Homo sapiens: one gene and its partners. The protein of the gene in region 2 purifies or fractionates together with the protein of the main gene of each other region. This does not show direct contact. Each region holds a gene or a part of one and is shown on either strand. Other genes may lie near its edges. The genes, in order: MYH7B, LRRCC1, CEP131, PIBF1, ATP2A1 and SLC25A31.

The links.
Region 1: the proteins of LRRCC1 (region 2) and MYH7B purify together in Homo sapiens (affinity purification with mass spectrometry; 2 studies listed by BioGRID and IntAct, with this or other methods). This does not show direct contact.
Region 3: the proteins of LRRCC1 (region 2) and CEP131 purify together in Homo sapiens (affinity purification with mass spectrometry; 2 studies listed by BioGRID and IntAct, with this or other methods). This does not show direct contact.
Region 4: the proteins of LRRCC1 (region 2) and PIBF1 purify together in Homo sapiens (affinity purification with mass spectrometry; 2 studies listed by BioGRID and IntAct, with this or other methods). This does not show direct contact.
Region 5: the proteins of LRRCC1 (region 2) and ATP2A1 purify together in Homo sapiens (affinity purification with mass spectrometry; 2 studies listed by BioGRID and IntAct, with this or other methods). This does not show direct contact.
Region 6: the proteins of LRRCC1 (region 2) and SLC25A31 purify together in Homo sapiens (affinity purification with mass spectrometry; one large-scale study listed by BioGRID and IntAct). This does not show direct contact.

Annotation. Positions count from the first base shown.
Region 1 is NC_000020.11:34,953,574-34,959,344, reverse strand, and holds the start of MYH7B (myosin-7B), read right to left. Parts: upstream 3,478-5,771; 5' UTR 3,338-3,477; exon of another isoform or gene 3,318-3,337; intron 1,248-3,317; 5' UTR 1,133-1,247; intron 1-1,132.
Region 2 is NC_000008.11:85,123,926-85,128,977, reverse strand, and holds part of LRRCC1 (leucine-rich repeat and coiled-coil domain-containing protein 1), read right to left. Parts: intron 4,187-5,052; coding exon 4,039-4,186; intron 2,290-4,038; coding exon 2,141-2,289; intron 1-2,140. UniProt on the Homo sapiens protein: Required for the organization of the mitotic spindle. Maintains the structural integrity of centrosomes during mitosis.
Region 3 is NC_000017.11:81,201,390-81,206,441, forward strand, and holds part of CEP131 (centrosomal protein of 131 kDa), read right to left. Parts: intron 2,219-5,052; coding exon 2,105-2,218; intron 1,010-2,104; coding exon 851-1,009; intron 1-850. UniProt on the Homo sapiens protein: Component of centriolar satellites contributing to the building of a complex and dynamic network required to regulate cilia/flagellum formation.
Region 4 is NC_000013.11:72,787,797-72,792,848, reverse strand, and holds part of PIBF1 (progesterone-induced-blocking factor 1), read right to left. Parts: intron 403-5,052; coding exon 302-402; intron 1-301.
Region 5 is NC_000016.10:28,884,241-28,889,292, reverse strand, and holds part of ATP2A1 (sarcoplasmic/endoplasmic reticulum calcium ATPase 1), read right to left. Parts: intron 4,719-5,052; coding exon 4,638-4,718; intron 2,105-4,637; coding exon 2,019-2,104; intron 1,869-2,018; coding exon 1,571-1,868; intron 507-1,570; coding exon 340-506; intron 1-339. UniProt on the Homo sapiens protein: Key regulator of striated muscle performance by acting as the major Ca(2+) ATPase responsible for the reuptake of cytosolic Ca(2+) into the sarcoplasmic reticulum.
Region 6 is NC_000004.12:127,729,178-127,733,199, reverse strand, and holds the start of SLC25A31 (ADP/ATP translocase 4), read right to left. Parts: upstream 2,801-4,022; 5' UTR 2,655-2,800; coding exon 2,423-2,654; intron 1-2,422. UniProt on the Homo sapiens protein: ADP:ATP antiporter that mediates import of ADP into the mitochondrial matrix for ATP synthesis, and export of ATP out to fuel the cell.

The DNA of each region.
Region 1 (5,771 bases), on a different chromosome or scaffold from region 2:
GCAGGTTCCCTACAGTCCACTACATGGACTCCATCCTTGCCAGGGAGTGAGGATCCAGCAAAGGCCTGGGGCCAAAAAGACCCTGGGCAAGTTCCCCAATCCTATGTGTCTTGATCTGAGATCCCCAAGTGAGCCTGAGAAGGTCTGTGAATTCCTCCACGTAGCTGATGCAAAATTTTATACTAATGGATCTCAGACGAGTCTATAGCCTCAAAAGTAACAAACCACAGACTTGACCTGACTTAGCATGGTTTCTTATTCACCCAATGGAGATACGATTTCTACCTTGAAAGGCTGTGAAGGGATTAAATGAGGTAATTTGTGAGAAGTACTTGAAACATCCTCAGCTTTCATTAAATGTTGGTTTCCTTCTCTTTCTCTCTCCCCAAACTATTTCCATCAGTTAGCAAATATTATTGAGCATCTGCCACGTGGCAGGCACCAGTCAGGTCCTGGGGGTAAAGTGGTGAACAAGACAGACATGGCCCATTTTCATGGGGCTCACATTCTAGCAGAGGGAAACAGCAAACAAATAAAAGCAACAATTTCAGATATGAATAACTGCTATGAAGAAAATACAAGGCCGGGCACGGTGGCTCACGCCTGTAATCCCAGCACTTTGAGAGGCAGAGGCGGACGGATCACAAGGTCAGGAGTTTGAGACCAGCCTGATCAACATGGTGAAACCCTGTCTCTCCTAAAAATACAAAAATTAGCCGGGCATGGTGGCACGTGCCTGTAATCCCAGCTACTCAGGAGACTGAGGCAGGAGAATTGTTTGAACCCAGGAGACAGAGGTTGCAGTGAGCCAAGATCGCACCACTGCACTCCAGCCTGGGCAACAGAGTGAGACTCCATCTCAAAAAAAAGAAAAGGATAACGTGATAGACTTATAGGGTGGGGCAGCCTCCAGGGATGAAACATCTGAATGACCAAAGGAGCCAGTCATGCCAGGATTTTGGAGGAAAGCACCCAGGCAGAGAGTGCAGAAAGGGCAAACGCTCCCTGGAAAGATTCTTAGTCAAGAGTCCTTCACTCCCAGTCCTACCACAAACTGGGTCACCTTGAACAAGTCACGTAACTTCTGAGGCTCAGCTGCCACATCTACAAAATGGGAATAAAGACATCTTACCTGCCACATTGTGAGAGGTTTCAACCAAAGGGCTGTTAAGGTCTGGGATCCTCCCCAAATCTCACCATAGACACCTGATACTCATCACTTGGCACCCGTCTTGGAAGAGGGGAACCTGCACAGAGAACCCTGGGTCATGCTTTTGATTTTTAATTTCATGCTGCACTAGAAATAGCTTCTTTTGTTCCTGGTTGACCCAGGAGCCTCTTCCTGCCACCTGGGGCCTATTCTAGTTAACAGCTGCTTATCCCCTCAGGTACAAAAGCCAACGAGGAAAGGACATCAGGAAACATTGTTCTGGGAATAACCAGACACCTATCTGCCACCATCTCCCCCCATCCCGTGACCACACACGGGAGACTGGAGGACTCAGCCTGTCCTGTAGTCAGATAATGTACATGGTTTATTTAAAGAGTCAAAAGGGGCCGGGCGCAGTGGCTAACGCCTGTAATCCTAGCACTCTGGGAGGCTGGGGCGGGTGGATCACCTGAGCTCAAGAGTTTCAGACCAATCTGGCCAACATGGTGAAACCCTGTCTCTACCAAAAATACAAAAATTAGCCGGGTGTGGTGGTGGACGCCTGTAATCCCAGCTACTTGGGAGGCTGAGGCAGGAGAATTGCTTGAACCTGGGAAGTGGAGGTTGCAGTGAGCTGAGATCGTGCCACTGCACTCCAGCCTGGGCAACAACAACGAAAACTCCGTCTCAAAAAAAAAAAAAAAAAAAAAGAGTCAAAAGGATCTTGGTCCCTGGGTTGGGCCACTGATTTACGATCACTAGGAGTTCTCACTCCTAAATTTCTTTGATCTGTTCGCTTCGCTCCATCTCCACAGCTGCTGCACTGGCTACAGCCTCATGATCTCACATCTTAACTCTCTCTGCTTTCTCTGGCCCATCTCCCCACTTCCAAACCATTTGTCACGCTGTAACCAGTGCCTAACACACAAAACTAACCATGTCCTTCCCCTGCTTAAAGCCCTTAGCTCCTGTTGCTCAGTGGAACTGGCGTCTGAGGCTACCTCTCCAAGCCTAAGCGCCTAAGTCCTGTTGCAACCCTCAGGCCCTTCCTCATTATCCACACCAAACTCCTCAGTGTCTGTAAAACAAGCCGAGCAACCCTCAGAATTATATGCCTTCGCTGCTCGTTTGTTTTGTTTTTAGGACAGGGTCTCACGCTGTCACCCAGGCAGGAGTGCTGCAGCGTGATCTCAGCTCACAGCAGCCTCCGTCTCCGGGGCTCAAGAATTCTCACGCCGCAGCCTCCCGAGTAGCTGGGATTACAGGCACGGGCCAACACACCCGGCTAATTCTTGTATTTCTAGTAGAGACGGGGTTTCGCCATGTTGCCCAGCCTGGTCTCCAACTCCTGAGCTCAAGTAATCCACCTGCCTCGGCCTCTCAAAGTGCTGGGATTACAGGTCTGAGCCACTGCACCCAGCCAGCCTTTGCTGCTTTTGTTCCTGCAATTTGGAACACTGTCCCCATCCCAGCCTCTCACCTCTACCCCTACCTCCTTCACTACCTATACCTTCCTATCCATCCTTCAAGACCCCAAAAACCATCCCTGATTCCTTCAGAAAGGCAGTTTATTGCCTATCTTATCAGACTGAAAGCAGTGGCTGTGTCTTATTTATGGTTAATTCCCTAGAAGCTGGACTGATACATTCCATTTAACTAAAATTCGTATCAGGTGCTTCGGACTGCAGACAAGCCTATCACAACCCAGAAGGAAGAAACAGGGAAGGCACCTGGGGGCTGCCAAGCAATGAGGTGGGGGGTAGGAATCATGAATCCGCATATTTTTAAAAACTGCCCCAGATCCTGATGTAAACGGTACAAGAGAGTCTGAGAAACACAGGGCTCCCCTCAAACAGTCCTGACTTCAGCATTCCTGGAAAAATGAAAATCCTTTCCTTTTGCCTCTAATGCTTTCCCTGCTGGTATCCCAGGTTAAAAAAAAATAGATAAAATCAGGGGGATTTTTCTGGGACTTGGCTGGGCTGGGAAACAAGCCTGGGTTCTAATACAGGCTCAGCCCCTGACGTACTATGGGCCCCTGCCCCTCCTTGGGGCCTCCATTACCACGGCCACCCCCACCCTTATCAATTGTGTGCCCCTGAGGTAGTGACTGTCCCGCTCTGAGCATTAGTTTCCCCATCTTCCACTAGTCGTCGTCAGCTCTGACGCTCTATGAGCTATGCATACCCGTAGCTCCCCGCCGACCCCGATGGTCCCCTCCCCTCCTTCCCAAGGTCCATCCGCCAGGGTGCAGCCGACGCACTCCTAATGCTAAGGCCGCCCTCTCATCGACCGCCCCTTCCTGGCCTCGACTCAGCGCCAAAGGTATGGGTCTCTGCCCCGCCTGCTCTTTAAGCCTAGCCGGGGCGGTCAGCGCAAGCGCACTGGGTCGCATCGAGGCCCCGCCCCCTGAGCCTGGGTAGCGGCGCGAGGGCCGGGAGAACCGTTCGCGGAGGAAAGGCGAACTAGTAGGTTGGGGCGGCCACGGCGGCCGGCATGGGTCACGTTTCCTCGGGAGGAACGATGTGAGGGAGGGGTCTGGCAAGAGATTGGAATTCCGGAGGCCGGGAGACCTTGTGGCTGAAACCCTTCGTAGGAGCGGGGCAACTAGTGTCTAGTGAGGGGGTTGGGCTGGCGCGCACTGATCCCAGACTTTCCGGATCTTCTGCCTTTAGATCGGGCCGGTGTCGGGGCATGTAGGCCAGTGAGACTGGAGCCAGTTAGAGCTACAACGGGGAGCGATTAGGGCCAAACTTTGTCCAGGGTGGAAGCGAGCGGGCCCGTGAAGTGGGGCCAGCCTGGGCAGCCGACCGTGTCGTTGCCTCGGGGCCTTTCCAGGCACTGGCCTAAGTCCTGGCGATAAAGTGCGACCGATTTCCTTGTGGGCGTTTTGAGGCTTTCGGTGATCTGACCCGTCTGTCATTCATTCTTCATTCATTCATGTGATGAATGAATACAGTACTAAGCGCGGCTAATTACTAGGTAGAGAAGTGATCAAGACAAACACTGTTCCTACGGTACAGGGAAAAGTGATGGGCTGTAGAATGTAGAAGCCCGGGGCGGAGAACAGGGACAGCTTCCGGAACGAAATCGCGAGCCCAGATCAGGAGTGGTGGCGAGAGTTCCAAAGAGAAGACAGCACGTGCCAAGTCCTGGAAGGGGGACAGAGGCCAACATATCCTGGTCACTGAAGACACCTGACTCTGAATCTGTTTCACGCCCAGGGAAGAGATGACAGTGGCCGGGGCTAGGCTACAAACTCTGGAAATGGAGATAAATAAAGGAATTCAAAGTACTATATACTTAGGCAGCAAAATCCATAGGATTTGGGGAGAGTGAGATGTAGGAAACAAGTACTCAAGGCTTGGGTACCTGGGTGGGGTTCATCAGAGAAGAAGCAGATTTGTGGGAGACAACAACAAATTCTATTCTGGTTGTATGGAGACTCGCAGGAAAAAATTGGATATTCTAGTTTGAAGGTAGGAAAGTATTGCTGTGAAGATGTAGATTTGAATGTCATCAGCAAAACATAAATAAAGCCAAGGGAGGGTTGAGGCTGTAGAATGAGAAAAACAAAGGGCCCACTTAGCACCTTCATCTGATTTCTTTTCTTTCTTTCTTTTTTTCTTTTTTTTTTTTTTTGACAGAGCTTTGCTCTTGTTGCCCAGGCTGGAGTGCAATGGCACGATCTCGGCTCACTACAACCTCCACCTCCTGGGTTCAAGCTATTCTCCTGCCTCAGCCTCCCAAGTAGCTCGGATTACAGGCATGCGCCACCAGGCCCGGCTAATTTTGTATTTTTAGTAGAGATGGGGTTTCTCCATGTTGGTGAGGCTGGTCTCGAACTCCCGACCTCGGGTGATCCGCCTGCCTCGGCCTCACAAAGTGCTGGGATTACACGAGTGAGCCACCACACCTGGCCCATGGTGATTATCTTTATGTCTTATCCTCCTCCATATCCCCAGTACCTAGTCAAGGGAGTGGCATTAAATGCAAATCAGTGTTTGCCAACTAAATAAAAGCCCAACAGCAAACAGATGTTGGAATTTCAGAGTTGTGGAACGATGGGGGCTCATGGAGGGTTTCATTACTCTAATGTCAAGGTAATGGGTTCTTGTCCTGGCTCTGCCACTAGGCTTCTGTGTGACCTCTGACAAGTCTCCTCCTACCTATAAAGAGAGTACAGCCAAAAAATGGTCTCATGTATAGAGCTTCAAACACTGCTGATAAATTTCACACTGATTTTTCTCTTTTAATCCACACAGCAATCTTACTTGAAAGGGAAGTCGGCTGGGCGGGGTGGCTCACGCCTGTAATCCCAGCACTTTGGGAGGCCGAGAGTGGGGGATCACGAGATCGAGACCATCCTGGCTAACACGGTGAAACCCCGTCTCTACTAAAAATACAAAAAATTAGCCGGGCATGGTGGCAGGTGCCTGTAGTCCCAGCTACTCGGGAGGCTGAGGCAGGAGAATGGCATGAACCCAGGAGGCGGAGCTTGCAGTGAGCCGAGATCGTGCGGCTGCACTCCAGCCTGGGCGACAGAGCCAGACTCCGTCAAAAAAAAAAAAAAAGAAAGAAAGAGGGAGGGAGAGAGAGAGAAAGAAAGAAAAAGAAGGAA
Region 2 (5,052 bases):
AATCATCTAAGCAACAGTTAAGGGCCTAAAGAAAGGTAACAGTTTTGGGATACAGAGGAGATAGTTCAACATCTTTTAAGATGATATCAATATCAATTGATGAATAAAAGTATCAATAAAGATGGTAATATCAACTGGTTGTGGGATAGGAGAAAGAGAAAGGAAGCAAAAAACAAAGATTCCTAGATTTCTATAGTTTTGGTGACTGACTGGATGCTGGATGGGGCACCATTTATTAGGGCAAGAAATATAAAATAAGGAAGAAGAATGAATCCACCTGAGGCCATGGTGATCTTAAGAAACTTATGAGGAATACAGGCAAGGCATTTTTAGTAGATAATTAGATGAACAGATCTGGTCATCAAGGAGGTTTGGATAATAAAGATACCATAGTAGGTAAGATTCATTTTTTGAAATTGTATATACTCACAGCATGGCACCCACATGCCAGACCCTGCATTAGGGATACAGAGTCCCTACCAAGGCACATAAGGGAACAGGGAGATTGGTAAGGATCTAATCTCAAACAAACATGTGGTGGTGGGGGGGGTGGGGGGGTGGCACAGATAAAAGAAGAATCAGAAAAGATTGATTTTTCATGAGAAAAATGAATACATAACTTGGGAAACACGGGCACAACAATAGGTTAAGTAAGAAGAAAGATAAAGTGTGCCCAAAGTCTTCCAGTTTAAATGGACTTTGGCTAGCAGCCCTAGACACAGCGTCCTCTAATATCCCACTAAATACCTAGAATACAGAATAAAGTAAAAATTCATACACATATAACTGAAAACAAAGGATAAGAGAATGCCAAAATTTGGGAATAATTTCAATTACAAGGCAAATGGAACTAAATTGAAATTAAAAACAACTCCTACAACACTCAGGCTTTGCCTCATGAAACTGCTCCATTCTGAAAAAAGGAAGACATATCTTTTCTCTTCTACTATCTGTCCATGACTCAGTCACAAGATCTCTATAAATCTGTCACTACATAATGTTGGTTACTCATGCACTTACTGAAAGCAGGAGTGCTGTTTTTCTGAGGTAGTCAGAGCACTCTTAATTGAGACATCCTGTTCCCTCATCCATACCCAGTAGCTTCTTGTGTCAATTCAGACAGACATTTATAAAACACAAATAAGGCAGGAAGTTGGTGGGTAGTGGTAGAAGGGCTAGTGATAACATAACGCATCACAGCTTTATAATTATAGAGGTTCTCATAGCATGCATGTTGCGTATTAGAATTGTCCTTATACTCCACAGGTACAACCTATCAGAGAAACATGCAGTGGGGTAGAAAACACCACGTCAGTATCACAAAAGTGCCTAAAAGAAATCGGGAACTGGGCTGTGAACTGTGTACATCAACTTATCCAAATCAGATTTTAGAAGGGGAATTATCCACTGCACAATCAGACAAGAAATGGAACCAAGAGCAACTTCCCAAAGTGTGTTAGCAAATGTCAAGTCTAAAAACCTAGTGCTCATTCAAGGGTAAGAAACCATAAGAAACTCTAAACATGTTATAATCATTTGAGGAAAAGCATGACGTTAGAAATAATTACAGGAAACAGAAGAAAAAAAGTTATTGTAATTTAAAAAACTGGTATTTTCACAGAATGAAATGACAGACCTGTATTAAAGAATGCAATACAACAAAACAAAACAAAACAAAAAACCCAGATAAAATGGGAGACGTAATGGTGAGGATAGAATAAAAACATCAGAATTAAGAAACTGGGCTATATGATACAAAAGCCCATTGCAGAAGATAAGTATGTGATGAGATCAAATATGACCCATGAAGCTTAAAGAAAAAGGCTGCCAATGCCTGCCCTTTACAGAATCTGGCACTTTACATAAAGTTTGTTAATCACTGCTCTAGTCTCTTGCTGTTCTTTACTTATAATATTTATCTGACACCTTCCTGCTTGAGGGCTCAAATACATGTACCTGAATTTCTTGTTGATATAACAAGCTAATAAAGTGCTAAATTGTCTAATAAAATTAGTTCAAATCAAACTAAAACCACATACATTGTTGTTGATTGAACCACACTGAAACTAATGTATTCCAGTTCTAAAGTCAGTATTGTTTATGCTATGAGGTATCTTCAGGTTTATTAATTTCTTTTTACCTATCTGTGGTAAGTAGAGCCAGACTATGAATATCCTCTTTTTCATTTGCATGTTTATGCAGCTCATCAATATAATCCATGAGTTTATTTTCGGCTTGCTCAGCTCTCCATCTCTTCTCTCTCTCTTGGTCTAGCTGTTCAACAAGGGACTGAAAGAAAACAACAAAGTTATGTGAACTTAGAAAAGTTACCTAACTTCTCACAGCCTCAATTTTCCCATTTATAACAGGGGAATAATAGTACCTACTTCAAAGAGCTACAGTGAAACTTTTTATTTTATTTTTTTGAGTCTCACTCTGCCACCCAGGCTGGAGTGGAGTGGCATGATCTCAGCTCACTGCAAACTCCACCTCCTGGATTCCAGCAATTCTTCTGCCTCAGCTTTCCGAGTAGATGGGACTACAGGCATGTGCCACCAAGCTTGGCTGTTTTTTTGTATTTTTAGTAGAGATGGGGTTTCACCACGTTGGCCAGGCTGGTCTCGAACTCCTGACCTCAAGTGATCCACCCACCTCGGCCTCCCAAAGTGTTGGGATTACAGGTGTGAGCCACTGCGCCGGGCCAAAAATTATGTTACTGGTAGCAAAGCATGTAGGTAAGTGCAGAACAGTGCCTGCTACATAATAACCAATCAATAAATGTTAGCTGCTATTATTATGCCATAGTAGATAAGATTCCTTTTTTGAAATAGTATATACTCATAGCATGGCACCCACATGCCAGACTCTGTATTAAGGAAACAGAGTCCTTACCAAGGCACGCAAGGGAATATAAAGATTGGTAAGGATCTAATCTCGAACAAACTTGGGGCGGGGGTTGAATCAGAAAAGATTGATTTTTCATGAGAAAAATGAATATGTAACTTGGGAAACACAGGCACAATAGGTTAAGTAAGAAGAAAGATGAAGTGTGTCCAAAGTCATAATGATAATTATTATTTTTCAATATTAAAGCCTCTATAGTTGAGAATAAGGGGAGGAAACCAGTAGCCTAAAATGTACCAATTCTATTATTGAAAGAACAATACACAAGTAATATAAGGGGAAGTTAATGAAAAATATAAAATAATGAAACCACAAGTACTGAAGTTTCTCAACATGAGAAATGTTAAGCAAATTTTAAAGAATTAAAACATTTTTGAACACCTCTTTTTTTTTTTTTTTTTTTGACGGAGTCTCGCTCTGTCGCCCAGGCTGGAGTGCAGTGGCGGGATCTCGGCTCACTGCAAGCTCCGCCTCCCGGGTTCACGCCATTCTCCTGCCTCAGCCTCCCAAGTAGCTGGGACTACAGGCGCCCGCCACTACGCCCGGCTAATTTTTTGTATTTTTAGTAGAGACGGGGTTTCACCATTTTAGCCGGGATGGTCTCGATCTCCTGACCTCGTGATCCGCCCGCCTCGGCCTCCCAAAGTGCTGGGATTACAGGCGTGAGCCACCGCGCCCGGCCTTGAACACCTCTTAATCTGGGATCCAGTGGTCCAAAATTGAGTTTCAGGAAAGTCCATGAAAACCTTGAAATATATACATTTTTTTGAGTGTAAAAATAGGCTTCTTTGAGAAGACCTGTAAATTTTTTTAGATACTGAAAAGGGTCTGACACCCAAAAAAAGTAGGAAGCACTACCTTAAGGAATAAGAATTAAAAAATTCATAACTGTTTCTTCCTCCAGAAGCATGTAACAAATGATTTCACTTAAATCTGATCATAAAAAAATGTAATTTTCATTCGTTCAAAAATAACATTACATAAAATCTGGAAATCAGGAAGGAAAAAATAACCCATTTTCATCACTCCAATAAAATTCAAACACTTTTTGCTAATAAAAGCATGCATAATTTTTCTGGGACTCTGTATTTAAAATTATTCATACTCATTTTTTCTTTAACTCTTAAATCATACCTGGTAAGTGTTGTCTTCTGAGTGACTTTGGTCTACTTTAATTATTTCAGTCTTTGGCTTTTCTGATTCTTGTAACATAGGACAGTTTGCTAAAGATGAGCTTACATATAATTCTTTAAGGTAAGGTGGTTTCATTTTACGATTACAACTGTAAAGAATGAAACATAGAAAATAACTCAAAAAAGTAGTGTTCACATTACTTTTCTCTAAATTAACATTTCTAGTTGTATATGCAAACAGCTTTTTAAAAAGAATATTAATAAAATTATAGTAACTTGGACAAACTGCTTCATAAATTTTATAATGGGTGTGCTCTGTTGATTAATGAGTGCCTTAAGATTTTAAAAAAGATAATGATTTCATAAATGTTCAGGGTTCAACATTTTCAGGTAGGGTAGAATTCTTGGATATATCAGAATAATTTAAAAAGTACTGTGGTAAGATGATACCCAAGAACTTGAAAAGACAGTAAATAGAACTACTCTTTGAGAGTTAAAAGTTTAAAATCGACATACAATGGATCAAAGTTAATAGATTCTATCACTTGGTAGGACCAAAGAAATTCCAGGGTATGTCCTGGAAAAAAGTACAGTGTTTGAAGTGAACTGAATGCCTCTGTGTGTGTGGGTATATATACATGTAAAATGTAATTGGGTAGGTATGGAAGAATTAATCAACAACAAAACAACAAAATATGCTTTGCAAAAGGAGAATTACAGAGGCAAAAGTTTACTGTAACCATCCCAGAGTAGTCATTTCTGAACCACTTGTCATGGTGATCCCAATTATGAAAGTACAGATATTGGTCTCCCTTGTCCTTATGGCATTAAACACAATCATCTTATTCACATTTAATCCTAAACTCAGTATCATCTGACTAGGATTTGACTTTCCATCTAGATCTGCCTACAAAGAGAGAAAAGGCTAGTCATGTAGACTCAGGTGTACTAGTCTTATTTCCCACTGTAAATGAATGCAGTGGAATTTGAACTAATGTTATTAGTTCAAATTAAA
Region 3 (5,052 bases), on a different chromosome or scaffold from region 2:
GTCACAGGAGGCTCCGCCCACAGCCCCTCCAGCTCCCCAGGGGCAAGCGGCAGGGGCACAGCCCCCAACAGTCATCATCACAGGAGGCTCCGCCCACAGCCCCTGGAGCTTTGGGTGTTGTTGGCTTTTTTCAGTTCTGTATCTTCTTTGCCTTTAATGTTGTTTTAATTAACAGTTTTACTGAGGTACAATTTCCATACTATAAAATCTACCCATTTTCAGTGTACAAGTCAATGATTTTTAGCAAATCTAGAGTTGTGTGACCATCAGCACAGTGCAGTTCTGGAATGTTCCACTGCCCCTGGAGGAGCCCTCTCTGCCACCCCTACACCAGCCTTCGACCTCCTGTGATAAACTTGCCTTTGCTTGGTGTTTTATGTAAATAGAACCACACCACATGGGGTCTGCTCGGTCTCAATATTTTAAAACAGGCCGGGGGTGGTGGCTCACGCCTGTAATCCCAGCACTTTGGGAGGCGGAGGCGGGCGGATCACGAGGTCAGGAGATCGAGAACATCCTGGCTAACACGGTGAAACCCCGTCTCTACTAAAAATACAAAAAATTAGCCAGGCGTGGTGGCGGGCACCTGTAGTCCCAGCTACTCGGGAGGCTGAGGCAGGAGAATGGTGTGAACCCGGGAGGCAGAGCTTGCAGCGAGCAGAGATCGCGCCACTGCACTCCAGCCTGGGCGACAGAGCGAGACTCTGTCTCAAAAAAAAAAAAAATTAAATTAAAACAATTATTAAATGGAAATTTCTATCCTCGGAGGTGTGAGCCCCCCAGACCCTGATGCCTGCCCACCTCTGTGTTCTAGGCTCAGGCCCCCCCCCACCGCCCCAAGATCGGTCACCTCTCAGCCTCCTCCTCCGTCACCTCCTTCCGCCTGGGCAAGCCCGTGCTGCCCCCAGTATTGTTCCGGGCTGAGTGGGTGGCACTGGAGACATTCTTCGGCAGCTTCCCAAAGCCGCTGCTCTCACTGCCCTCACAGGTGGCTGCCTTGATGATGTTGCTGACAGGTAAGAAGAAAACACCCTCGTCTCACCGCCCAGGGGAACAGCTCTGCCCACAGGCAGCAGGTGCCCACTCCCGGAAGTCCCAGGACTGAGCCTGGAAGTGGTGCTGGCAGGCTGGCAGCCGGGGCAGAGGGGGACAGCGGCAGGTGCGAGGCCGGCTCTCCCGTGCCACATCCTGGCCTCTGGACCACCTGTGCCCTGACAAGGTCCCACTCACTGGTACCCAGGATAATGAGCTCTTTGCATTTAAAAACTTCTCACTAAAGTTACATTGAGAGGCTGGGTGCCCTGGCTCACACCTGTAATCCCAGCACTTTGGGAGGCCAAAGCGGGCGGATCACCTGAGGTCACGAGTTCGAGACCAGCCTTGCCAACATGGTGAAACCCCATTTCTACTAAAAACACAAAAAAATTCGCTCGGCATGGTGGCGGGCACCTGTACTCCCAGCTACACGGGAGGCTGAGGCAGGAGAATCGCTTGAACCTGGGAGGCAGAGGTTGCAGTAAGCCGAGATCATGCCACTGCACTCCAGCCTGGGCAACAAGAATGAAACTCCATTTCAAAAAAAAAAAAAATTCCATTGAGAAAGTTCCCAAAAGTCACAGGAGTCCAGAGCCTGAGGGACCCCTGAGCAACCCCAAGGCCATCCCCAATCCCCGCAAGACCATGTGGTGGTGGACTCGGGGGCTCCTTTGCCCCGCTCGGTCCACCCCCGCTGTGACGCCTTCTGGGCTCTGCACAAGCCTTGGCTTCCTCCTGGGGGCCCCACCTCAGGGTGAGCCCCAGACCTCACTGTGCCACATCTGGGCTGTTTTCTCTCTGTGGGAAGCTGCCGACCCAAGAACAGAAGAGGGCGGCGGACGTGGATGGGGAGCCCGGTTCACAGCTGCTCCACGCGGTTTTACGTGCACTGACCACGTGCCCTGACCGAGGTTGGACCCCATGCACACTGACCGCATGCCCTGACCAAGGTAGAACCCTGTGTGAACTGACCGCGTGCCCTGACCGAGGTCGGACCCCAGGTGCACTGACTACATGCCCTAACTGAGGTCGGACCCCGCAGCCCCGCGGCCTCCCCAGAAGACCTTACTTGAGGGAGGGGGCAGTCTGGTTGGAGCTCTTGAGCGGAGGCGCCCTCTCCGAGGGGGTGTAGCGGTTGTGCACCATGGTGGTGACGCAGTTGCCCACTGCTCCCTTGTTGCTCCTGCCAGGCCGGAAGAGAGACAGGAATGGTCAGGCCTCTGGAGGGGACGCCTGAGATCTCAGAGCTACACTCGCAGCACGGGCTGGGAGGGAACAAAGGCCTTCAGTGCTTGCTACGTGCTGGCAGCATTGTCGTCCAGTGTCCCCAGGCCCCTTCCACAGCCTGCGCCCTGATGATGGGGTTCTTCCCAGGACAGGAAAGCTGGACCAGGGGCTCCCACGGGGCAGGGGATAGAATCGAGGCATGAACGCTGGACGTGCCCAAGACGGGGGGAGCAGCTCAGGCCAGCAGCTCACAATCAGCTTCCAGAGCAGACTCACAGAAGCGAAGCCCCATCCCACACGACGGATGGAAGCCACATTCTCTGCCTCTGCCCCTCCGCAGACCCGCAGGAAGGCGGGAGGACAGGACCAATACCGAGGCTGACAGGAGGGATGGGGAGACTGCAGGAAAGGGGCATCTGCAGACCTGGAGGATTAGAAACAGAAGGGCCAGCAGAGAGCAACTGGGACACAAGGGAGGGTCCAGGCATTGTGGGGAGGGAGGGCGAGGAGCTGGCAGGTCCCGTGCCCCCACGGAGACACACTGTTCTCCCACAGGCATGGACAGGCTTTGAGGCAAAGGGGAGAATCTGGCTGCTCGGCAAAGCCCCTTCCCTCACTTGAGCCGCTAGCATCCACCCTGCCCTCCCCAGCTGGCCCTGCAGGTGGGGCAGAGATGGGTGATTCACCCAGGACAGCCACCGCCACCCCTCCCCAGCAGTGCAACCGGGCAGCCAGGACTCGAACCCTGGGGCGGGCTGGGGGTTTGTCTCTGGAGAGACTCAGCCTGTGAGGAGGGTCCCACAGACACTGGTAGGTGGGGATACTCAACAATGCCTTGCTCTCTGCACCAGTGCCCCGAAGTGAAGCCACCAGGCAATAGGCTTCCAGCTAACTCCTAGGGCCTCCCTTTTAACAAGAACCACCAAGACATCTGGGCAAAGACCAACATGTCAGAGGCCCAAAATCAAACCAACAGAACATGATGGGAATGAGGATAAGCAGAGAGCAGAGCAATGCACGAAACCTGCTCCTGCACCAGCCTGCACCTGCACCGGACCACACCTGCACCAGCCTGCACCTGCACCGGACCACACCTGCACCGGACCACACCTGCACCGGACCGCACCAGGCACCAGCCCACGCCCAGCACCAGCCTGGCCTGCACCTGGCACCAGCCTGCACTCACAAACGTTCAACAGCTGGTTCTTGGAGCGCGGCTCATCTGCCAATTTGGGTGGTGTGAATAACCTACCAGGACTGATTTTGAGCTGTTCAGGAATGAGCAGCATGGCATGTATTCATAAATGTTTTCAATAAAACACTAAATGGCCGGGCGCAGTGGCTCACACCTATAATCCTAGCACTTTGGGAGGCTGAGGCGGGTGGATCACAAGGTTAGGGGTTCGAGACCAGTCTGGCCAACATAGCGAAACCCCGTCTCTACTAAAAATACAAAAATTAGCCTAGTGTGGTGGCACACGCCTGTAGTCCCAGCTACCCAGGAGGCTGAGGCAAGAGAATCACTGGAACCCGGGAAGCGGAGGTTGCGGTGAGCCGAGATCACACCACTGCACTCTGGCTTGGGCGACAGAGCGAGACTTCGTCTCAAAAACAAAAACAAACAAACAAAAAAACACCAGAAGAAATAGCTTGAAAAGATGCTGCTCCTCAGGGGCAGGCGCCAGGGGTAGGAGGGGCGGCAAGAGTGTGGGTAGGAGGGGCAGCAGTGGGGTAGGAGGGGCAGCGGGGCAGTGGGTGGGGGGTAGGAGGGGCAGCGGGATGGGGGTAGGAGGGGTGGGGGGGTAGGAGGGGCGGCGCGGGGGTAGGAGGGGCAGCGGGAGGGGAGGTAGGAGGGGCAGGGGTGGGGAGGGTAGGAGGGGCAGCACATTTTAAGCCTATGGTGCTGTTTGACATTTTGGCTGTGTATGAACATATAACTGATAAATACTAAGGTAAATTTTAGGACCAGGTGTGGGGGCTCAAACCTGTAATCCCAGGGCTTTTGGGGAGGTCAAGGAAGGAGGATTGCCCGAGCCCAGGAGTTTGAGACCAGCCTGGGCAACACAGCGAGACTTCATCTCTACAACAAATTTAAAAATTAGCCAGGAGTGGTGTTGTGCACCTGTGGTCCCAGCTGCTCCGAAGGCTGAAGGGGGAGGATCTCTTGAGCCCAGGAGGTAGAGGCTGCAGTGAGCTATGATCGTGGACTCCAGTCAGGGTGACAGATGAGAACCTGCCTCTAACTTAAAAATAAATTAAAAAGCAAGAATTGAGCTGGGTGCAGTGGCTCACGCCTATAATCCCAGCACTTTGGGAGGCCAAGGCGGGTGGATCATGAGGTCAGGAGATCGAGACCATCCCGGCCAACATGGTGAAACCCTGTCTCTACGAAAAAAATACAAAAATTACTCGGGCGTGGTGGCGTGGTGGCACGTGCTTATAATCTCAGCTACTCGGGAGGCTGAGGCTGGAGAATCGCTTGAACCAGGGAGTCAGAGGTTGCAGTGAGCCGAGATCATGCCACCGCACTCCAGCCTGGTGACAGAGCAAGACTCCATCTCAAAAAAAAAAAGGCAAGAATTCTTCCTGTGCCAACCCTGGAGAATAACCACACGGTCTCTCCCCTGAGACTATTCCCTTGGCAAAGGCTCTAAATGCCGGAGGAAAAATGTGTCCCCAATCCCTTCCACTCATGGGTCCCCTGAGGCCTAGCCCAAGGAGCCCACACTCTCCTTGAAGGCTCAGAGGCAGCTGCCTGGAGTCTATTTCTTTTGGAGCTTCCCCAGGACC
Region 4 (5,052 bases), on a different chromosome or scaffold from region 2:
ATCAATCAATATGTTGCGTAAAAGAAGAAAGGTTAATGGTGGTCAGTTTAGAGAGCTTCCTTTATCATATATGGTTTACACTGACCAATGTTTGTTGAATGAATGTTGAATTTTGACTTTCTGTATTTTATGTACCATATCAAGTATCCTACTTTTTTTGTGGTCTAGGTGTAAAAATTATTGCTATCTCTGACTTAAAATTTCTCTATTTTAGCTTACAGTCACAAACATGAACAGGCAATAAAATTACTTTTAATTGCTAAATAGATGTTGTTTTTTTTTTAAAAAAAACTTTTCTTACCTGGCATCTTTCTGTTGAAAAGCCAATTGGTTGTCTAATCTCAATGTTAGTAGCTGCTTCTGGTGAAGTGCATCATTAAGTTTCTCCTCCAATTCTTCAATCTTCGTAAAGAGAAAAAGATAAATTATATGATTTGTCATAAAGAAAAACTTTCAGTTTCATAATAAACATATTTTAAAAACACTTGAAAGAAACAGGCTAAAAATGGATAGAGGGACCAGGCACAGGGGCTCACGCCTATAATTCCAGCACTTTGGAAGGCCAAGTGCTGTTGCCCAGGCTAGAGTGCAGTGGCGCAACCTTGGCTCACTGCCACCTCCTCCTGCCAGGTTCAAGTGATTCTACTGCCCCAGCCTCCTGAGTAGCTGGGATTACAGCCAAGTGCCACCACACCCGGTTAATTTTTGTATTTTTAGTAGAGACAGGGTTTCACCATGTTGGTCAGGGTGTTCTTGAACTCCTGACCTCAAGTGATCAGTCCACCTTGCCCTCCCAAAATGCTGGGATTACAGGCATGAGCCACCGCGCCTGGCCTCCTGCCTCCAGTTTTGCCAACCTCCAAATTTATATTCCTCTATCTTACCTTTAAAAAATGCTATCAAAAATTTATTTTCAGCTGGGTGCGGTGGCTCACGCCTGTAATCCCAGCACTTTGGGAGGCCGAGGCGGGCAGACAACTTGAGGTCGGGAGTTCAAGATAAGCCTGGCCAGCATGGTGAAACTCCATCTTTACTAAAAAATACAAAAATTAGCCAGGCATGGTGGCGGGCGCCTGTAGTCACAGCTACTCAGGAGGCTGAGGCAGGAGAATCACTTGAACCTGGAAGGCGGAGGCTGCAGTAAGCCAAGATTGCACCACTGTACTCCAGCCTGGGAGACAGAGCGAGACTCCGTCTCAAAAAAAAAAAAATTATTTTCCTAGTTTTACATTCTTCAGAGGATCCTCACTGTCCTCAGAATAAATTCTAAACACTGTGGCATAATACAGTGGTATTTCTTGATCTAGCCAACTACTTTTGTCATTAGCTTAAAAGGAAACTCCATTTCAGCCAATATTAAGTGCTTGCCATCCCCCAAGTATGCTGTGCTTTCTCAAGCACTTGGATTTTGCTCTTAGTCTATTTAGAAAATTCTTTATTCCCTTTGCTTTAACCAAGACGATTCCTGTTTGCCCCTTAAAATACATGAATTTCAGGCAGGGCGTGGTGATTCACACCTGTAATCCCAGCACTTTGGGAGGATGAGGCGGGTGTATCACAAGGTCAGGAGATGGAGACCATACTGGCTAACATAGTAAAACTCTGTCTCTACTAAAAATACAAAAAATTAGCCGGGTGTGGTGGCATGTGCCTGTAGTCCCAGCTACTCGGGAGGCTGAGGCAGGAGAATCGCGTGAACCCGGGAGGCGGAGGTTGCAGTGAGCTGAGATCATGCCACTGCACTCCAGCCTGGGCGACAGAGTGAGACTCCATCTAAAACAAACAAACAAACAAACAAACAAACAAACAAAAATACATGAATTTCACAGCCAATCCATAACATATGCAAGTAAATCCCTCCTCTTGCATCGTCAAGTCCCTCTTCTCTACTGAATCATTCTATCATCAAGCAAATGGTCCCTTGATCACATCATTCTCTTTGCTATAGCACCATTTCTCTGTTGGTCTTCAGAGCAAAACTTCAATATAGTTTTTGCCCCATACTATTCCAGTGAAACTATTCTTGTTAAAGTCCATAATGTCCTGTGCATTGTTTTTTTCTGCCTATTTATCTTATTTGACAGCATGACTTGATACAGCTAACCACTTCATTCTCTTTTAGCTTCCATGATACTCTTCTCTAGTTTTCTTAACTCACTAAATACTCTTAAGCTTTCTAGGCTCCTCAGCTGGACTACCCCTTTGACTTACTTTATAGCCCTCTGTTCTCCCTAGGAAATACCATACAATCCCATGGCTTTAGGTGCCACCTATATGCTGATTTATCTATCTATCTATCTATCTATCTATCTATCTATCTATCTATCTATCTATCTATGTGTGTGTGTGATCTATCTATAAGGGTGTGTGTGATCTATCTATAAGTGTGTGTGTGTGTGTGTGTGTGTGTGTGTGTGTGTGTGTGTGATGGACTCCTCCTAAACTCTAACTGACAATTACATTTAGGAATCTATAAGTTACACCTTCAAAACTGAACTTATTAATATATTTTACCTCCCAGATCAGTTTTCTCCCAGCCTTCCATTCTTATAAATGGCCCCAGTTAAATAAGCCAAAAACTTAGGAATGTAACTCTTCTGTTTCTGTCTTGTCTGCCCTTAGTCTATTATTTTAGTGCCATTTTGAATACAGAAATCAGGACATGTAACTCTTAACTGCTAAACTTTGCCAATAGCTTTTCTGACTACATAGTCTAAAGCAAGAATTAAAAAATGGTGATGGGCTAAATCCAGCCCATAAGAAAAATCTGATAGAGCATAGGTGGCCTACAAAGCATAAAATATTTTCTGTCTTGGCCATAAGAAGGGGGACCTCTGTCATATCCATTGGCATATATCCAGCAACATCTCAATAAATAAATCAATATAAAATGTAAAATAAACACATTCCTTATAATTACTGTTTCCCAAATCAAGAATACTGTTACATGTTGAGCATCCCAAACCCTAAAATCTGAAATTCAAAATGCTCTGAAGTCTGAAACTTTTTGAGAGTCACTATGACACTCAAAGGAAATGCTCAGTTGACCCTTTTGGATTTCAGACTTTCAGATCTGGGATGCTCAACTGGTCTAACACAAATATTCCCAAATTAAAAAAAAAATCAAAAATCTGAAATATTTCTGGTCCCAAGCATTTTAGATAAGAAACAACCTGTATCACGAGGAAAAAAAAAACATTTTTTTCAGGGTTTCAATGTTTATAATTTCAATTAACTTCTAAATTGAGTCTCTTAACTCAAGGACAAGCTGGGAAATGTATTCATTTCCCAGGTAATAAGGAACCCACAGATCTCTAATGAGAGATAAATAAAAAGAGTTTGGGGCATTTAAAAATTTTAAAGAGCTCAATTCTGTGGCTCAGGCTGTAAACCCAGCACTTTGGGGGGCCAAGGTGGGAGGATTGCTTGAAGCCAGGAGTTTGAGACTAGCCTGGACAACATAGTGAGACCCTGTTTCTACAAAAAAATTAAAAAAATTAGCTGGGTGTGGTGGTACACGCCTGTAGTCTCAGCTGCTCAAGAGGCTGAGATGAGAGGATTGCTTGAGCCCAGTAATTTGAGGCTGCAGAGAGCTGTGATCAAGCCACTGCACTCCAGCCTGGGCAAGAGAGTGAGACCCTGTCTAAAAATTTGAAAGGCAAGAACAGAGAAGAGGAAAGGAATAAAGAAGTACAGTAAGGAAGGGAATCTAGGCAGCAATAGATGGAAATAAAAGTGTAAAGCTAACAATGCTCTACTATCAGGAAGTTTGGCCTGAATAGCTACTCTTCTGAGTAGCTTTTCTACATTCTTTCAGTTAACAAGCAGCTGAGTGGGAAGTGCTTTTAAAGTGTTCTTGGACCTGCTTGTTCCTGTTTTTAGACATGGAGAATTCAAATCAATACGGCCAAGACTATTCCTAGTAACAAACTATAATAAAGCCATGTATCCATAACCATTTGTATTGGTGCCACAATGGAGTGGGACATGTTAGATTCAAATATTTTCTAACTAAAAAAAGATTTTGATGGGTAGAAGAAAAAACTTACTTGCCTCCCAACATCAAACCTTCCCTTCTTTCTGACATACTCTGGTTTTTATTAGTAACAACATGTCCAGTTAGCTTCCCATCCCTTGTAGGTAGGGGTGGTCATGCTATACAATGTTAGTCAATTGAGGCCACTGGCTTGAACTTCTGGAAGAACTCTTTAAAGAGGACTGACTCATTTGGCACATGCCCCCTTTTCCACTATCCTTCTCCTTATTACCACCTTTTACATGTACACAATACTGGAGGCAGATAAGCTATCTTATGATTTCAGGTGAAAAGCATATGTTGAAAATAGCTAAGGTTAAAAGGAGCCTGGGTTCCTAATGCGATCAAGGAGTAATCACTTGAGGTCTACTAAAATACCTATTTTTGGATTTTTGTTATACCAAAGAAACAAAATCCTTCTCTTGCTTAAGCCATGGTTTCCAGGTCTCTGTTACCAGAAACCACCATTTTTCAAGTCTCTGGTATTAACTGCTGAACTTAATCCTTGAAACCCTGGGCAGTTGGTTCAATCTCTTTCCAAAATAGAAATACCTATAATATTTATTAACAGTTGACTATTCAGGACTACTTAAATGCTTCCAATGACAGGAAGCTCAGAAACTTAAGATCAGGCCATTTCAATGTTAATAGCAATAACAGGCTTACACTGAGCAGAAATCTACCTTTCCTGTGACTTCCAACCATTATCATGGAGCTATAGTCTAGTGAGGAAAATTTATTTTTCATAACGTTAGCATACGATGCTCAATAAGCTTTGGAGAATGAATGACCAATTAAAAATACCTTTCTTTCAAGACCTAGGCTTTAAGTTTCCTGCCCAGGCTAAAAAGTGTATGGCATGGCTGGGTGCAGTGGCTTCACACCTGCACTTTGGGAGGCTGAAATGGGTGGATTGCTTGAGGCCAGGAGTTCGAGACCAGCCTGGCCAACATAGTGAAACCCCCATCTCTACCAAAAATACAAAACTTAGCTGGGCGTTGTGGCACGGGCCTACA
Region 5 (5,052 bases), on a different chromosome or scaffold from region 2:
AGAGTGAGACTCTGTCTCAAAATAATAATAATTTTTTTTAATTAAAAAAATGAAGATAATGAGACCATCCTCTGAATGGGCTATTGTGAGGGATGAGAGACGATGTGTGGCAGTGCCTGGTGCGTGGATGGTGGTCAGAGTGAGCTGTCTGGCTGGGGCACAAGGGTCCTCTCTGATCCCGTTCATGGCAGACAGGATGGCGTTCTACTGCCCTTTGAGCATTTTGCAGGCCCAGATGAGAAGCCAGCAGTGATGAAGGGAGACCTCTATCTTTGGAGGGCCCATTTAACCCCCACAGGCAGCCTTCTGACTGAGCGCGCTGCCCACACTGCTCCTGACCTTGCAGACAGACATCTGGTTGGTGGTGAGGGTGCCTGTCTTGTCGGAACAGATGACAGAGGTGCAGCCCAGGGTCTCTACGGAGGGCAAGCTTCTTACAATGGCATTCTTCTTTGCCATCCGACGGGTACCCAGGGCCAGGCAGGTGGTGATGACTGCAGGAAGACCTGTGGGGAGGGAGGGAGGGTGTGAGGGAACCTGCAAGGGGAGGGTGTGAGGGAACCTGCAAGGGGCTAAATAGTAGCCCCCAGCTGGGCACGTTGGTGCACACCTATAATCCTAGCACTTTGGGAGGCTGAGGCGGGAGGATCACTTGAGGCCAGGAGTTTGAGACCAGCCTGGAAAACACAGTGAGACTCCTCTGAAAATATTTAAAAATTAGCTGGGTGTGGTGGTGATTGCCTGTGGTACCAGTTACCCAGGAGGCTGGGACAAGAGGATTGTTTGAATCCAGGAGTTCGAGATTACAGTGAGTTATGATTGTGCTACCACACTCCAGCCTGGGCAACAAGAGTGAGACTCTGTCTCTATTAAACAAACAAACAATAATGGTCCGCAAAGATACCAGATCCTAATCCCTGGAGCCTGTAAATGTTACCTTACTTGGAAAAGGGGTCTTTGGGCCAGGCGTGGTGGCTCACACCTGTAACCCCAGCACTTTGGGAGGCCGAGGCGGGTGGATTGCTTGAGCCCAGGAGTTCGAGACCAGCCTGGCCAACATGGTGAAACCCCATCTCTACTGAAAACACAAAAATTAGCCAGGCATGGTGGCGTGCACCTGTAATCCCAGCTACTTGGGAGGCAGAGGCAGAAGAATCACTTGAACCCAGGAGGCAGAGGTTGCACTGAGCAAGGCCGGGTGCGGTGGCTCACGCCTGTAATCCCAGCACTTTGGGAGGCCAAGGCGGGCAGATCAGGAGGTCAGGAGATCGAGACCATCCTGGCTAACACGGTGAAACCCCGTATCTACTAAAAATATAAAAAAATTAGCCAGGCATGGCGGCGTGCACCTGTAGTCCCAGCTGCTAGGGAGGCTGAGGCAGGAGAATGGCGTGAACCCGCGAGGCGGAGCTTGCAGTGAGCCGAGATCACGCCACTGCACTCCAGCCTGGGTGACAGAGCAAGACTCCATCTCAAAAAACAAAAAAGAAAAAAAGAAAAGAAAAGAAAAGAAAAGGGGTCTTTGCAGATGGGATTAGCAAATGGGAGGAGAAAAGAAAGGCTTTCATACCTTCGGGGATGGCAGCCACAGCCAAGGCCACGGCAATCTTAAAGTAGTAGATGGCCCCGCGGAACCAGGAGCCCCCATGGACGGGGTCGTTGAAGTGGCCAATGTTGATAAGCCAGACAGCCACACAGATGAGGGAGATGACCTTGGAGAGCTGCTCCCCAAACTCATCCAGCTTCTGCTGCAAGGGGGTCTTGTCCTGTTCTGTGGCAGCCATTTGGTCTCGGATCTTCCCAATCTCGGTGCCCACACCAGTGGTGGCCACGATGCCCAAGGCCTTGCCGGCTGCAATGTTGGTGCCCTGGGAAGGGAAAGAGGAGGCAGGGAATCAGGCAAGAGGTGACCCTCATGCCGCATCTCCCCACGCCATCTCTTCTCACACGCCATGTTTCTCTCCAACCCGGGCACCTGGCTTGACTGAGTGTGTGATGGCTGGTCCCGGATTGCTCACCGAGAAAAGCATGTTCTTCTTGTCCTGGTTGACAGCTCGGGGGTCAGGAACGGGCTCCGTGTGTTTGATGACAGATACAGACTCGCCTGTGGAGAAGGGGCCAAGGGGTTTTCGGATGACATCATGTCCTTCTCCCAGGCTTCCCGTGCCTAACTCTCTCCCTGCTCAGCAGGACAGCTCCTGGTAAGGACCAAGTAGCCATCCTGGGGGATGTCTGGACTCTGGAAGAAGCCACTGAAGGCAGCTAGGAAGTCCATTGCTCCTTTTTTTTTTTTTTTTTTTGAGACAGAGTTGCAGTCTTGTCACCCAGGCTAGAGTGCAGTGTCAAGATCTCAGCTCACTGCAACCTCCCGGGTTCAGGCAATACTCCTGCCTCAGCCTCCCAAGTAGCTGGGATTACAGGCACATGCTGTCACACCTGGCTAATTTTTTTTTTTTTTTTGTATTTTTAGTAGAGACGGGGTCTCACCATGTTGGCCAGGCTGGTCTCGAACTCCTGACCTCAAGTGATCCGCCCACCTCAGCCTCCCAAAGTGCTGGGATTACAGGCCACCGTGCCCAGCCAGAAGTCCACGGCTCTTAAAAAGACCTCGACCCAAGCCCCAGCTTGACCACTAACAAGCTGTGTTTGATCACCTAACTTCCATGTGCTCCTCTGTAAAATGGGGACAAGGACATGTACACTGCAAAACAATGTCTTGGGTGAAAATCAAATAAGTGGACATATTTGGAGCCACACTTTTAACTGTCAAGCATGTTTCTGGGAGGAAGGGGGACCTACACTTACGACCATGCCTCCCTCACCCTAAGAGCAGGGGCTCAGCAGCAAGCCTGGGCCAGCCTAGCCCTTGCCCCCTGGGACCATGGGGAATGTTTTCTGCCTCTTCTTCGCTTCTCCCTGCCAGTGCGGAAACAGAAGCAGCTATGGTGGTTTTACAGAGACAGGGTCTTGCTCTGTTGCCCAGGCTGGAACGCAGTGGTGTGATCATAGCTCATTGCAGCCTCAAACTCTTGGGTTCAAGTGATCCTCCCACCTCAGCCTCCCAAACAACTGGGACTACAGGTGTGCAGTACAATGCCCAGCTAATTTTTAAAAAAATTTTATAGAGATGGGGTCTTGCTCTGTTGTCCATGCTGGACTGCCGTGGTAATCATAGCTCACTGTGGCCTCAAGCTTCTGGGCTTAGGCAATCCTCCCACCTCAGCCTCCCAAGTAGCTGGGACTACAGGTGCACACCACCACACCCAGCTAGTTAAAAAAATTTTTTTTTTATAGAGATGGGGTCTCGCTGTGTTGCCGAGGCTGGTCTGAAACTCCTGACCTCAAGTAATTCTCCTGCCTCAGCCTCCCAAAGCACTGGGATTACAGGTATGAGCCACCACGCCCAGCCTAGCAGCCATGGTTTTCAGTGTATCTGAACCCCCTATCTTGTCCTAGAATCTCATGGCTCCTCCCTGGAGGATTTTTGAGGAGGCTGAAGGAGACAGGACAGTTCTCGAGGTGTCTGTGGCCCTATGTCCATGTGGAAGGGGTGGGCTGGTGGCTATCTAGAGAGTAGGCAACAACATCCAGCCTTCTCCCACTACCCGTCCCGTTTCAGGCTTGGGACAGAATGGAAACGTCAAGCAGGTCAGGTGCAGTGGGTGGCTCACACCTGTAATCCCAGCACTTTGGGAGGCTGAGGTGGGTGGATCACGAGGTCAGGAGTTCAAGACCAGCCTGGCCAAGACGGTAAAACCCTGTCTCTACTAAAAATACAAAAATTAGCCGGGTGTGATGGTGGACGTCTGTAATCCCAGCTACTCTGGAGGCTGAAGCAGGGAATTGCTTGAAGCCAGGAGGCAGAGGTTGCAGTGAGCTGAAATCGCGCCACTGCATTCCAGCCTGGGTGACAGAGCAAGACTCCATCTCAAAAAAAAAAGAAAATGTCAAGCAGTGCTGCCACTGCCACAGCCACTACTAGCGAGCCAGGGGGAGGCCCCAGTGCTGGGTTTTGTTTTGTTTTGTCTTTTTTTTTTTTTTTTGAGATGGGGTCTTGCTCTTGTTGCCCATGCTGGAGTGCAGTGACATGATCTTGGCTCACTGCAGCCTCAGCCTCCTGGGTTCATGCAGTTCTACTGTATCAGCCTCCTGAGTAGCTGGGACTACAGGTGCCTGCCACCACGCCTGGCTAATTTTTGTGTTTTTTGTATTTTTTGGTAGAGATGGGGTTTCACCATGTTGGCCAGGCTGGTCTCTAACTCCTGACCTCAGGTGATCCACCCACCTCGGCCTCCCAAAGTGCTGGGATTACAGGCATGAGCCACCTCGCACAGCCTTTTGTTTTTATTTTGACAGAGACAGGGTGGCCCAGGATGGAGTGCAGTGGTGTGATCACAGCTCACTGCTGCCTTGACCTCCTGTACCCAGGCGATCCTCCTGCCTCAGCATCCTGAGTAGTCAGGACTACAGGCACTCAACAACATGCTCAGCTAGTTTTTAAAATTTTTTTGTAGAGACAGGGTCTCTTTATGTTGCTCAGACAGTGAGGGTTCTCTGTCTTTCCACTCACCTCCCCCTTGTTGCCTCTTCCTCCCCACGTCCCACCCCCATGCATCTTCCCACCCAGGCCAGCAGACCTGTCAGGATGGACTGGTCAACCCGCAGCGTGGTGGATTTGATGGCGAGGATTCGGATGTCTGCAGGGACTTTGTCCCCCACTGTGGAGAGAGTAGGGAAGAGGGAGGTCACTTGGGAATGGAATTTTCTTCCTTCCAAAGAAAAACCCAATCTGTGTCTGACTCGTTCTCCTCATCCATCCTTCAGGTCTCAGGGAGGCTCCCAGGGCTTGCATCAGGCCCTTGGCTTGAGCTCCTGAAGCTGGCAACCCCTCATCGTGACACCCATCCCTTCTGCCCCCGTGTCCACGGCGAGATGGAGTCTCGCTCTGTTGCTCAGGCTGGTCTTGAACTCCCACATCTCTTCCCACTGGCTGTGAGCCCTGAGAAGGGATGGGCAGGTGTACTGCTCAGCACATAGTACATGCTCAATAAA
Region 6 (4,022 bases), on a different chromosome or scaffold from region 2:
TAGTAAACTTCTGAACAGAAGAAAGTACGATCTTTTTTCTACTTCCTTATATGGTAGCTGCATTACTGGAATCAGTGTATACTAAAATCATGCCCCAGACAATGTGTTTATAAGTAAATCAGAGTTAAGTTATTTCTAGGCTTAGAGAAACATAAACAGGTTTCACTGCTACACGAAAATCGAAGGGGAGATCTAAAAGTCATTCAGGTTGCGGGATAAATCTTCATCATGTATGACTGGCCTGCATATAGCAGCAGGACGTTTAACATTCCTGGCCCTTGCCTTTCATACCATTGTAAAGTAGGATTATACCCCTCTATCTTTGTGCTAAATAAAAAAAAATTGCCCCACAAGTTTCCGAAATTGCCTCTAGATGGCAATAGTATCCTTGTAAATTACTGATCTCTTAGCATAGGATACACCATGGTACCTTCATAAAGCTTTATATATAATAGAAAACATCTTCAAGTTCTACTTATGATCCTCTCATCTTGGAACTTAAAGCAAGGACCAGGATACATCTGAGAATGATATCAACTTACAAGGGCCATATTGAATACGTTTAGGTTTAAATATTGTGAAAAACATTTAAAATATGAAATAAATTAGCACTAGTCAGCCCTATCTGACCAGAATACTTCATTTTACCTGACAAAATATTTGAAGCAGAAAAGCTAATAATAGAGAGGCCCCTACTTCTCTTCAGAAGTCTTAGAATATAAACGAAGAAGAGACAGGTTCCTTGCTTTTCCTGAAAAAATCTTGGGGGAAATGAGAAGCTTGCTTTAATTAAATGAATGAGTGGAGAGAGGCAAACTATGAAAGACCTGAGCTTAGCTCCCAGATGATGCATTAAGTTTCTACCCCTGACCCCATATACTCCACGCCACAGGTCTGGAAGAGTTGTAACCACATCCCTAGCATTCCTAGGGTACAAGGTGCTTTTTTAAATGGGACAGTATCTGGCCCTAGAACAGGACTAAAAGAAAGGTCTGCACTGGAGTTGAAGCCACTTCATTTCTTGAGAATACACAATAAATGTCTATTTCTTTTTAAAAGATCATACAGATTTTTCTATTGAATCCAACTATATGGGTGGATTATATAAAATATCTGATAGACTTATCCCTTTAGCTAACTTGGGAGCCATTTTGCAGCAATGGTTCACAAAGCACTTTCGTTATTTCTTTAAATCATTCCAATATTAATAGAAAAAATCAATGATGAACAAAAATGAAATTTTAAATAAGGACAGTGCTTGATGCAAAAAGAAAAACTGGTAATACTGATCCCATCTTTATTTTAAACTTGTATATATTGTGTTTGTTATGAATTCTTTTGCATGACTTGATTTTTAAAAGATTGCATTAAAATAGTTTAAAGTTTTTTTTTTTTCCTGTTTTTAGGAGTGGAGGTTTAATAGAAAAAATAAAGAGAAAGGAGAACAGCTCTCTCTCTAGTTGAAAGAGAGGGGCTTCGGAAACGGAAGGACCCTAAAGTTTTGTTTGTTTTTTTGAGACAGGGTCTCACTCCTTCATCCAGGCTGGAGTGCGGTGGCGCGATCTGGGCTCCCTGAAATCCCCGCATCAGGGTCCCGCAAGTAGCTGGGACTGCAGGCGTGCGCCACCACGCCCGGCTAATTTTTGTATATTTAGCATAGACTGGGTTTCGCCATGTTAGTCAGGCTTGTCTAGAACTCCTGAGCTCGAGCTCAAGTGATCCGCCCGCCTCGGCCTTCCAAAGTGCTAGGATTATAGGCGTGAGCCACCGCGCCTGGCCTTAAAATACTTTTTATCTTGATGACTGAGGGTTGGGTTTTTTTTTTTTAGGGCCCCCTTGAATTTTGGGCAGAACGAAGTACCCCCTTGGTCTTCAGTAGAATAAGCAGAACCTCTTTTCACTAATAGGTTTCAGAGTACTGGTAAGCCCTAGTGCTCCCATATTTGTACTTCTCTTAGACATACTATTTCAACAAATATACATATAGATTTTGACTCAAGGTCTCCTCTGTCGCCCATGCTGGAGCATAGTGGGGTGATTATACCAACAAATATTTAAGCAACTTAGAGCACTAGTTATAGCAGAGTGCCTAATGGCATCTCCCTCAATCCTGGGAGGTCAACCACTCTCCTTCTGGACCTGGCACAGGTGCACCAAGGTGTAAATCGCACTGCAGATTTAGAGAAAGAGAAGGCAGTGGTCTCCCCGGTACCAGGACTTGGTCAGGACCAACGCGGCCCTGGAAAAGCAGAGCCTGTTAGGTTCAGAAACTAAATTCTGGAAGGGTAAGAAGCAAATTCATCACCGACAGCTGTAGCTGTGGTTGTGGGGCCCACAATCATGCCCCTCCCAGCCACCCTCTTCTCTGGGAAGCTGACGAGGGCGCCGGGAGAGGCTGTCGGGGCGGCCTGCCTTGACGCACCCTGCTCGCGAGGAATCCGCACCAGGCAGTCCACCATGCCTTTGTACCGCGCCTCGGGGCTGATCTGCTTCGACGACGCCTGCACCTGCAGCAGCAGCTTCACCCGCTCGATGGGCGCCACCGCTGTCTTGGACACAGCTGCCGCGACTCCGCCGGCCAGAAGGTCCTTCCCGAAGGATGAGGCGTCAAACAGCCGCTTTTCTGCCTTCTTTTTCGCAGGCTCACGATGCATGATGGAGAAGGATATAAAAACCGGCAGCAGTGGCTAAAAATGAGTACGGGAGCTACGATGAAGGGAAGCGGAAAACCGGAAAACCGCTGCAGCATCGTACTGGCGAGAAAGTGGCTCTTGGGACGCTGAGAGAGCCGCGCGCCGGCGAGGCGCGTGCGGAAAAGCTGCGCAGGCGCTCCAACGGCCTCCAGCCACGTGACGCCTGACACGTGACACCTGACACGTGACTCCTGACACGTGGCTCCTGGATGCGCGGTGACGCCTGCGCACTTCTACGAGCGGAGCCTGGGCTTTCTGATGAGGGAGGGGTCCGGAGGCGGTGAGCATTGAGCAGGAAAGGCGAGGGGAGGGGCCGAGGAGAGCCAGTTCTGTGTGAAGAAATTTAGTAGCTGAGACTAGGCCAGAGCAGTAAACCAGCGGTGTGAGATTAACAGAATTTAGTTTTAGTTCCTAGTGTTACCCCCTTCACTTTCTTAATCGCTTTAATCCGTTACGTTTTTTTTGACCAGAGATGGTTCCTTTGACCTTTCTTGGCATCTTAAAAAAGACAGTCTTACCTGTTGTGTGATTCAAGTGATGTTCCCCTTAAATTTCACCCTATGTGCCTGTTAATGCTTCAAATTCCCTTGGAAATTGCTTTAATCTGTTCCTTTAATTAAGCAGGGATCCTTTGTCTAGTCACTTTCTGTGTCGTTTTGATGATTGTGCCCCCATAGCATAATACATGTTCCTCTTTTTCATATTGTATTTAAATTGATAATATCCAGAGCAGTGGTTCTCAATCCAGACTGCACATTCAAGGGGATGAGGGGTGTTTTGTTTTGTTTTTCAAATTGATGCTTGGGATTAGGCCCTGCACATTAAATCAGAACGTCTAGAAGTGAGGCCTGGCATCAGTATTTAAATTCTCCAGGTAATTCTAGTGTTTGAAGTAATTCTAATTCTAGGGTTGAGGGCCAATGACCTATCTAGAAGAGTAGTTCACAAACTTTTCGATTGCAGGACCCCTCTTTTTCACTCTGAAAAATTATTGAAGGCCAGGTACCAGTAATCCCAAAACTTTGGGCCAAGTCCAGCCTGGGCAACATAGTGAGACCCCTCCTTTACAAAAAAAAAAATAGCTGGGCGTGGCTGCACAAGCCTGTAGTCCTAAGTATAGCTACTTAGGAGGCTAAGACAGGAGAAATGCTTGAGCCCTGGAGTTGTAGGCTGCAGTGAGTTATTATCTCACCACTGTGCTCCAGCCTGGGCAACAGAGCAGGACCCTGTCTCTTAAAAAAAATTATTGAAGACACAATGAAGCTTCCGTTTTTATTATGTATATTGGCATTTACCACTCAGAAATTAAAACACGATTTAAAAATATTT